2 separate regions of the Homo sapiens genome follow, and region 1 is linked to region 2. The links come from fine-mapping of genetic effects on gene expression. Tissue or cell type: subcutaneous fat. Region 2 holds a variant in brackets; the other region holds the start of a gene. All regions are shown on one strand. Distances are from middle to middle.

Region 1 (4,246 bases), 67 kb after region 2:
TCCAACATTACATTAACCCTGTGAGATTAATAAAAAACGAAAGGCTCAGAAGAGATAAGTATTAGAAAAGTTACACAGCTATTAGGGGGCAGTTTAAATTCAAACCCATATATTTAGAATTCCAAAGCAATGCTTGTCAAATATAGACTTAGCACCAACTTTATTCTTATAATCACTAAATATATTTATTTAATTCTCCTAACCTCATGAGAAAGTACTATTGAGTAAAAACATTAAGTGAGAATAAGAGCAGTGTTTGTAGTCAAGATCACTTTTCAAATTATTTGGAACTTCCCATCTTCCCTGGATCTATTTTCAATCCCAGTCAGTCATCTTTGGGTCCAGAAGCATATCCTCCCCCATCTCCCAGCCCTCCCCCTCTAGCACACAACGCACTGGAGAAAACTGCTAAGGCATTGCTGAATATCTACCACTCTACTCTGATGGCACACAGGGCCAAAAAGATTATAGAATAAAATCTAACTGAAAAATTATAGGTGATTTTTATAAGTCTGTTTAAATGCATATGCATCCCAGGCATTCCACCTGGCAGTCTCTGTCTCAAGGGCCCATCCACCTCACCATGGTCTGGAGGGAGGGGATGAGGAATAGGGAAAGCCAAAGAATTGATCTTTTCTGAGTTTGCATCCAGAACATGGGCCACAGAGAAATGGTGAACAAAGTCACCCATTATTATTAACAGCTATGATTTATTCAACATTTCCCTGTTGCCAAGCATTAAATAAGCTGTTTTATCTCCCCACAACCATGAGGTAGATAATGTTAAGATCCCCAATTCAGACCTGAGGAAAAGCGTGATATGAAACAGAGAAAGATTCTGTAACCTGCCATTGCCCACAGCTACTGGGACTTGGCACAGGGTTCAAATACAGGCAGCCTGACTTCTCTCTGAAGGATGTCAAGCCACAGCCACCATACTCACCTAGTCCCCACATAATGATGGCCCAAGGAACTCGCTTCCTCAATTTTTGCTTAGTTTTACTCATTCATTCTTTCGAGAAATAGAAGAATGCCAGACACTAGGCATACAGCTATCAAACAGTGAGAAAACAACAGGCCCCATTTCATGTGCCTTAGAGTGTAGTGAAGGAGACAGAAAATGCCAACAAGTAAACACGCAAAAACTAACTGTCAATGGTTGCTCTAAAGGAACACAAAGTGCCATGAGCAAGGAAATAGGAGGGACCTACTTGAGATGACATAGAAAGTCAAAGAAGGCTTCTCCAGAAAGGGGGCATCAAAGCTGGGACACGAAGAAAGAGAATCAGACAGCCAGACACACAAGAGCCGACAAGATCTCCAGAAGGAGTGCTGCCATGGGGAGCAAGTGTGGCATGGCCCTGGGGTGCAGGCCAGGCCGGGGGCAGGGACTGAAGCAAGTTGTGAAATTTCTGATTATCAGGGGCAGAATGGATTCCTAAGGCAGCCACTGTCTTCTGTTAACTCTGGAGTTTTCTGCATCCCTTTTGCTTTAAATGAGGCATACATGTTTTCATAGCTGTGATGAAACCCCTACAATTCTCCAGTTTAGCATTATTTATTTTACTCTTAAAAAATAACAAAGCTGACCCTGGCAGATGTTTGTACTGGGAGATTCAGATCCATCCAGGCCCCCACTGTTAATAGCCCACGGGAAAGTCCCTGCAGTCTCTCAGGGAAGTCATTCTGTGTAGAATCTGTAATTTCACAGGCAAGTCCTGCAACTTTTTAATTGTTTAAAATTCCCAGAAGGAATAATTACTGAAATTATCTATGAAGGGTTTAATGGACACAGACATGAGAGCTATAAACAATGTGATACTATGTCCTGTTAACTCACAGAGAACGGAAGGGCTGGAACGGGACCCAGCCAGCAGGGTTTGTGACCGCCTCTGCTGTGACGTCACAGCCTGGTGAGGAGGGGGCTGCAGTTCCTCAGGAAACTGCCAGTGGACAAATTCATAAACAAGAGCTCCAGTTCCCTGGAACCTGAGTCGGGAGACCTGCAGCTCACTTTCTCCCTGTTTGCTGGCCAGCAGGGTTTGTGGCCGCCTCTGCTGTGACGCCACAGCCTGGTGAGGAGGGGGCTGCAGTTCCTCAGGAAACTGCCAGTGGACAAAGTCATAAACAAGAGTTCCAGTTCCCTGGAACCTGAGTCGGGAGGCCTGCAACTCACTTTCTCCCTGTTTGCTGGCCCAGACAGGCCTGTGCTAGAGGGCTGGATAGTGTGGTAGTGTGGTGGATAGAGTGCTGCCTCTATCCACAACGCAGCCATATGCTGACTGAAGATAACTTTGTGTCTGGAAGAGCCCTCTGATTTCTTACACTAATGGCCTTACACGACATGGAGGATTTTACATTTGATGGAACAAAGCGCTTAAGTGTCAACTACGTGAAGGGAATTCTTCAACCGACAGACACCTGTGACATCTGGGATAAGATCTGGAACTTCCAAGCCAAGCCTGATGACCTGCTTATTTCTACCTATCCTAAAGCAGGTAGGTGGAAGGGCTTGCAGGGGAAGGGGAAGAGGAGAGTTAGGAAGGTAAGTGGAAGTATGCATTAGTCATGAAATAAAGAAGTTGATCTGGAAAACTCTGGACAGAGTGATATGGCTAAGGAAAGTTACTAGTGGAAACTGAAGCTATACCGAAACATACTAAAATGACATACAAATTTTTAGAATTCAATCTTCCTATGATACTATGATGTACTTCCTTTTTTTTTTTTTTTCACTTTCCCAGGAGAGAGTGAAAACAGTTAAGAGCAAAAGGGTAGACTTGTTTATTTATTCATTCCCAATCTAGGCCCTTATTGTAGATCTTGTAAAAAGCTGCTTTGAGTGTGTGAGCTAGAAAGGTGATCCTGAGTCTGATTTGGGAAAGAAATAGGGGAGCTTTGGTTCTGCAATGCTGATATCACCTCAGCAGCCCTCCCATCTCAGGGTCTGAGAACCATCCTTCTGATTTCCACCTTCCTTTGTGGTAAGTTTTGAACCAACTGCCTTATCTCAACAATCAGTTTAACAAAGTTGTCTGTAAAAGTAGGACTAGCTTAAGCCGAGCCACCACGTCATAAAAATTGGGTGATGATGAGGTGGAAATAGTTCTCTATAAATATTTTTGCATATCTACATATCTACTAGAAATACATTACTGGGTCCACACACAAATTGTATATACATTTGCTCTTTGCAAAATCAAGCTGTCAAAAACTCTTGTTATACACACACAAACACACACACATCAAAAAATCTAAACCTCAGTATTTTCTGAGACTGTTCAAAATCCTCTTTTGTTCTTATCTCTCAAGATCCTGACAGAAGATTCTGCAGGCACATGGAGGCCTTGGTCTCTTCTTTGTCCATCTGTTTCATTTTGGTCCTGATTTCCCAATCTTACTCATCAGGAGCCCATTCAGGATCAAATTTTTCTGAATGTAAATTTCTAAAAGTAGCCACTGGTGAGGATCACATCTCATCATCTTAATTTCATTGACAATTCCACTTGATTATCAATTCAATACATAAATAATCTTTTCTCTATCTGCCAAACGCAAGTACAAAGATATGGTTCATTTAGGTTTTTCATGGCATTAATGAGGTTTAAGCAATTCAAAAAGCACACTAAGAAAATTAAATACTTGCCATCTAAAGTAATATTTAATCATAACTAAAACCATATACATTAATGAAGGCTATTTTATTAGAAGGAAGAAGAAACAAGCATAGATGGCAAAAATAGTTCACCCTAAATTTTTAAAAGAATAATACTCTGAATGACACAAGAAAAAAATACATCATAGAATCACTGGCCTCTAGAGAATAAATTGAGAAGTCATTCCACTCACCCCGGAGCCTCTAGCAACATTTGAATCTGCCCTCATGTTGGCTCATGTCTATAAATTCATTCAATTCATTCATTATAGACATTCAGTGTTATGGCTATAAATTCCCATAAAACTAGTACAAATGGCTGGACTATTCTTTGCATGGATAGCTAAAGATATCTTGGCCCTTTGTCCTGTAATAAAAGTTGCTGCCAGAAAATACAGGAGACCAACTACTATAAAATATAAAATGTAATTTAATTTTTTTCTAACCTATGCCCTTATTCTAGGCCTTTAAAAGCACTAAATTGAGAATATGGGAAAAGGAATCTATAGAGTTTCGGCCAGATAATACAGGAAAGATCAACCTAGATCAGGATTCAGAAAGCCATCCTGGCTAGGCATGGTGGCTCACACC
Region 2 (4,246 bases):
CTGTCATCTGTCCTGGCCATTCAGGCAACTCCAGCCTGGGCTCAATCCTGGAGTTCTGTCTGGTCACTATCAGAAGGAACACTTTGAGGGAAACCCTGGTGCAGCCAGCCCTGAGGAAACATGGCCTGAGTGCCCTCACTGGTGGGTGGGAATAAAATGGAAGTGCACAGAGGAGATGTCAGAAGACCAAAACTTGGTGAATAGTCCCAGTGCTAGGTCATATAGGAAACAGAAAGCATGACAGTGGCCTTTTGGGAACCCAAGTTACGTCCTGGTGAAAGCAGAAAGGAGGAGACAGGATGGCTGTCAACAACGTCAGCATGGGCATGGCTCCCAGGCATGGAGGTAATTGGGTCTTGGCTTCAATGCCACCCTTTTGGGAAGCCCTAAACCAAGTGAGGTGTTCTTTTCCCTTGCTTCCCATATTTGTCCCAGTTGCAGCCCTGTTGTTATGTATTTACTCTTCAATTTCTTATTTATACCTCTCACTCAATTGTTAATTCTTTGGGTTCAGTCTCATGCCATATTTACTCCTAGTACCTAATGCAGTGCCTGGCACACAGCAAGTGCCCTTGAGAACTTGTAGAGGGAGTAAAAAAGTGCATGGATAAATGACTGCAGCAAATCACAAATTTTGAACTTTGACCCTTTTCTTTTAGTCCCAAATAGTGGCATTCCATAGCTGAGGGTAGTAGGAGCAGTTCACCCTGGGAGCAGACAATAAGAGGAAGAATGAAGCCAACTAAAATTCTGAATGCTTTTTGTTGGATTTCGTAGGGTATTTTTTTTAAAATAGGGTCTTGCTATGTTGCCCAGGCTGGTCTTAACTGACTGCTTTTTATTATTACCATGCACTGGCAATTCCAAACAATGTCAGTGTTAAAATGCTTCTCCCTGAAAAAGAGAAAAAAAAAAGGAAAAAAAGAAAAGAAAAGTGAAAAGAAAAACTCTTATTGGCCTAAGTTCTAAATAATAGCTAGGTTACCACTGAGTTTTAACTATATGTATATGAGCTTCAAATAAGCACCTTTTTATTATGTAAATAAATAAAAGTTATCTGTATCCCCACTGCATTGTAAAATTTTTGTTGTTTTGTTTCATGTCTTATTCACCTTTGTATGGAAATTAATTCAGAAACCCCAAGCATAGAGTCTACCTCTTTAATTCCAGCAGGCAGATGTAGTTCTGCCTGCTTCCTTCCAAGGTTAAGTTCATAACAGTTCAGAATCTTGCAAGCTCACTTCAGGTATAACCTGTGTCTCCAACCCTGCAGTATTTGGATATTGCTGTTTAAACAGTAGATTTGGCATAGATGATGGTGGCACAATGGTTGTAAAGGAAAAGAAGCAGAACACCTCAGTTTGTTCAATTCTCTCATTGGGGTTTTCAGTTGTATCCAGAATTTAAAACAGTAAAATTTAAGAGTGTGAACAGCAACATTCACACTTTGTTTAGTAAGTACAAAGTTGTGCTCATACAGGAAGTTTACTGACTTTGAATAATAACTTTAAAAACAAAATTTACTCTTTTCTAAGTGTTAATTATTTGTTTTAAAATTTAAGAATGAATCAAGAAATAAAACATTACACCAGTGGTATGATTTAGTAATTGTCTGACTTATACTTTTTGTAGACATTTTAGTTTTATTTAAATTGGCATTCTG[A/T]TTTTTTTACTGGTCTTGAGTCTATACACAAAAGTTGAATAAAAGAAAAGTTTCACTGACTACATTTCTTTACTATTATTATTACTTGTCTCTATTCATGATCAACACTGAAAATAATTTTGTTGTATACGGAAGTAATGTTGATATGGTTAGGCTGTGTCCCCACCCAAATTTCATCTTGAATTGTAGCTCCTATAATTCCCTCATGTTGTGGGAGGGACCCCGTGGGAGATCATTGAATCATTGAGGTGGTTTTCCCCATACTGTTCTCATGGTAGTGAATAAGATGTGATGATTTTATAAGGGGTTTCCTCTTTCACTTGGCTCTCATTATCTCTTGTCTGTCACCAGGTAAGACATGCCTTTTCACCTTCTGCCATGAATATGAGGCCTCCTCAGCCACATGGAACTGTAAGTCCATTAAACCTCTTTTTCTTTATAATTTACCCAGTCTTGGGTATGTCTTTATCAGCAGTGTGAAAATAGACTAATAAAGTAAACTGATACTGGTAGAGTGGGGTGCTGCCATAAAGATACCCAAAAATGTGGAAGTTGCTTTGGAACCTGGTAACAGGCAGAGGTTGGAACAGTTTGGAGGGCTCAGAAGAAGACAGGAAAATGTGGGAAAGTTTGGGACTTCCCAGAGACTTGTTGAATGGCTTTGACCAAAGTGCTTATAATAATATGGACAATGAAATCCATGCTGAGGTGGTCTCAGATGGAGATGAGGAACTTGTTGGGAACTGGAGTAAAGGTGACCCTTGCTATGTTTTAGGAAAGAGAATGGTGTCATTTTTTCCACGCCCTAGAGATTTGTGGAACTTTGAACTTGAGGGAGATGATTTAGGGTATCTAGTGAAATAAATTTCTAAGCAGGAAAGCATTCAAGAGGTGACTTGGGTGCTGTTAAGAGCATTCCATTTTAAAAGGAAAACACAGCATAAAAGTTCAGAAAATTTGCAGCCTGACAATTCACTAGAAAAGAAAAACCCATTTTCTAGGGAGAATTTCAAACCAGCTACAGAAATTTGCGTAAATAACAAGGAGCCAAATCTTAATCACCAAGACAATGGGGAAAATATCTCCAGGCCATGTCAGAGACCTTCATGGCAGCCCCTCCCATCATAGGCCCAGAGGCCTAGGAGGAAAAGATGGTTCCATGGGCTGGGCCCAGGGCCTTCCCTGCTGTGTGCACCCTAGGGACTTGGTGTCCTGTATCTCAGCCACTCCGGCCATGGCTGAAAGAGGCCAACGTAGAGCTCAGGCCATGGCTTCAGAGGGTGCAAGCCCCAAGCCTTGGCAGCTTCCATGTGGCATTGAGCCTGCAGGTGCATGGAAGTCAATAACTGAGGTTTGGGAACCTCCACCTAGATTTCAGAGGATGTATGGAAATGCCTGGATGTCCAGGCAGAAGTTTGCTGCAGGGGAGGGCTCCTCATGGAGAACCACCTCTAGGCCAGTGCAGAAGAGAAATGTGGGGTTGAAGCCCCCACAAAGAGTCCCCACTGGGACACTGCCTAGTGGAACCATGAGAAGAGGGCCACCATCCTCCAGACCCTAGAATGGTAGGTCCACCGACAGCTTGCACAGTGCACCTGGAAAAACCACAGGAACTCAATGTCAGCCTGTGAAAGCAGCCTGGAGGGAGGCTGTACCCTGCAAAGCCAAAGGGGCAGAGCTGCCCAAGACCACGGGAACCCACCTCTTGCATCAGAGTGACCTGGATGTGAACATGTAGTCAAAGGAGACCATTTTGGAGCTTTAAGATTTGACTGCCCCACTGGATTTCAGACTTGCATGCAGCCTATAGCCCCTTTGTTTTAGCCAATTTCTCCAATTTGGAATGGCTATATTTACCCAATGCCTGTACCCCTACTGTAGCTAGGAAGTAACTAACTTGCTTTTGATTTTAAGGCTCATGGGTGAAAGGTACTTGCCTTGTCTCAGATGAGGCTTTGGACTATGGACTTTTGAGTTAATGCTGAAATGAGTTAAGACTTTGGGGAACTGTTGGGAAGGCATGATTGGTTTTGAAATGTGAGGACATGAGATATGGGAGGGGGCAGGGGAGGAATGATATGGTTTGGCTGTGTCCTCACATAAATCTCACCTTGAATTGTAGCTCCCATAATTCCCACGTGTTGGGGGGAGGGGACTGGTGGGAGATAATTGAATCATGGTGCAGTTCCCCCATACCATTCTCTTGGTAGTGAATATGCCTCATGAGATCTGATGATTTTATTAGGGGTTTCCCCTTTCAATTGGCTCTCATTTTCTCTTGTCTGCTGCCACGTAAGACATGCCTTTCACCTTCCACCATGCTTGTGAATCCTCCCGCCTCAGTTTCCCAAAGCACTGGGATTACAGGCATGAGCCACTGTGCCTGGTCTTTTTCATTTTAATTGCAGACACAGTTCTTTAGTACTTGCATGCTTGTGAGGCCTCCAAAGCCATGTGGAAATGTAAGTCCATTGAACTCTTTTCTTTATAATTTACCCAGTCTTGGGTATGTCTTTATCAGCAGCATGAAAATGGACTAATATAAAGATAGTTAAAAAAAAAAAAAAACATTCACTCCAGGGT

Which allele goes with the higher level. Positions count from the first base shown, and alleles are read on the strand shown. Sizes are in standard deviations (SD) of each study's normalised expression.
In carriers of allele A in region 2, the expression in subcutaneous fat of the gene that starts at base 1,946 in region 1 tends to be lower than with T alone (moderate effect, 0.44 SD a copy in GTEx).

What was found. PIP is the estimated chance that this variant, and not a neighbour inherited with it, causes the effect.
Region 1: SULT1C4 starts here. The variant in region 2 is the best candidate, but not a certain one, in a credible set for the expression of SULT1C4 in subcutaneous fat (GTEx, PIP 0.51).

The regions. Positions count from the first base shown.
Region 1 is chr2:108,376,009-108,380,254 of GRCh38, forward strand. It overlaps SULT1C4 (sulfotransferase family 1C member 4), which reads left to right and starts at 1,946. Exons shown (of 7, transcript NM_006588.4): 1 at 1,946-2,498. The coding sequence starts at 2,330.
Region 2 is chr2:108,308,848-108,313,093 of GRCh38, forward strand. It overlaps SULT1C2 (sulfotransferase family 1C member 2), which reads left to right. Exons shown (of 8, transcript NM_001056.4): 8 at 1-1,068. Among named protein-coding and RNA genes, the nearest start is that of SULT1C2, 22 kb to the left of the region's middle. The variant A/T (reference allele first, on the strand shown) is at 1,664.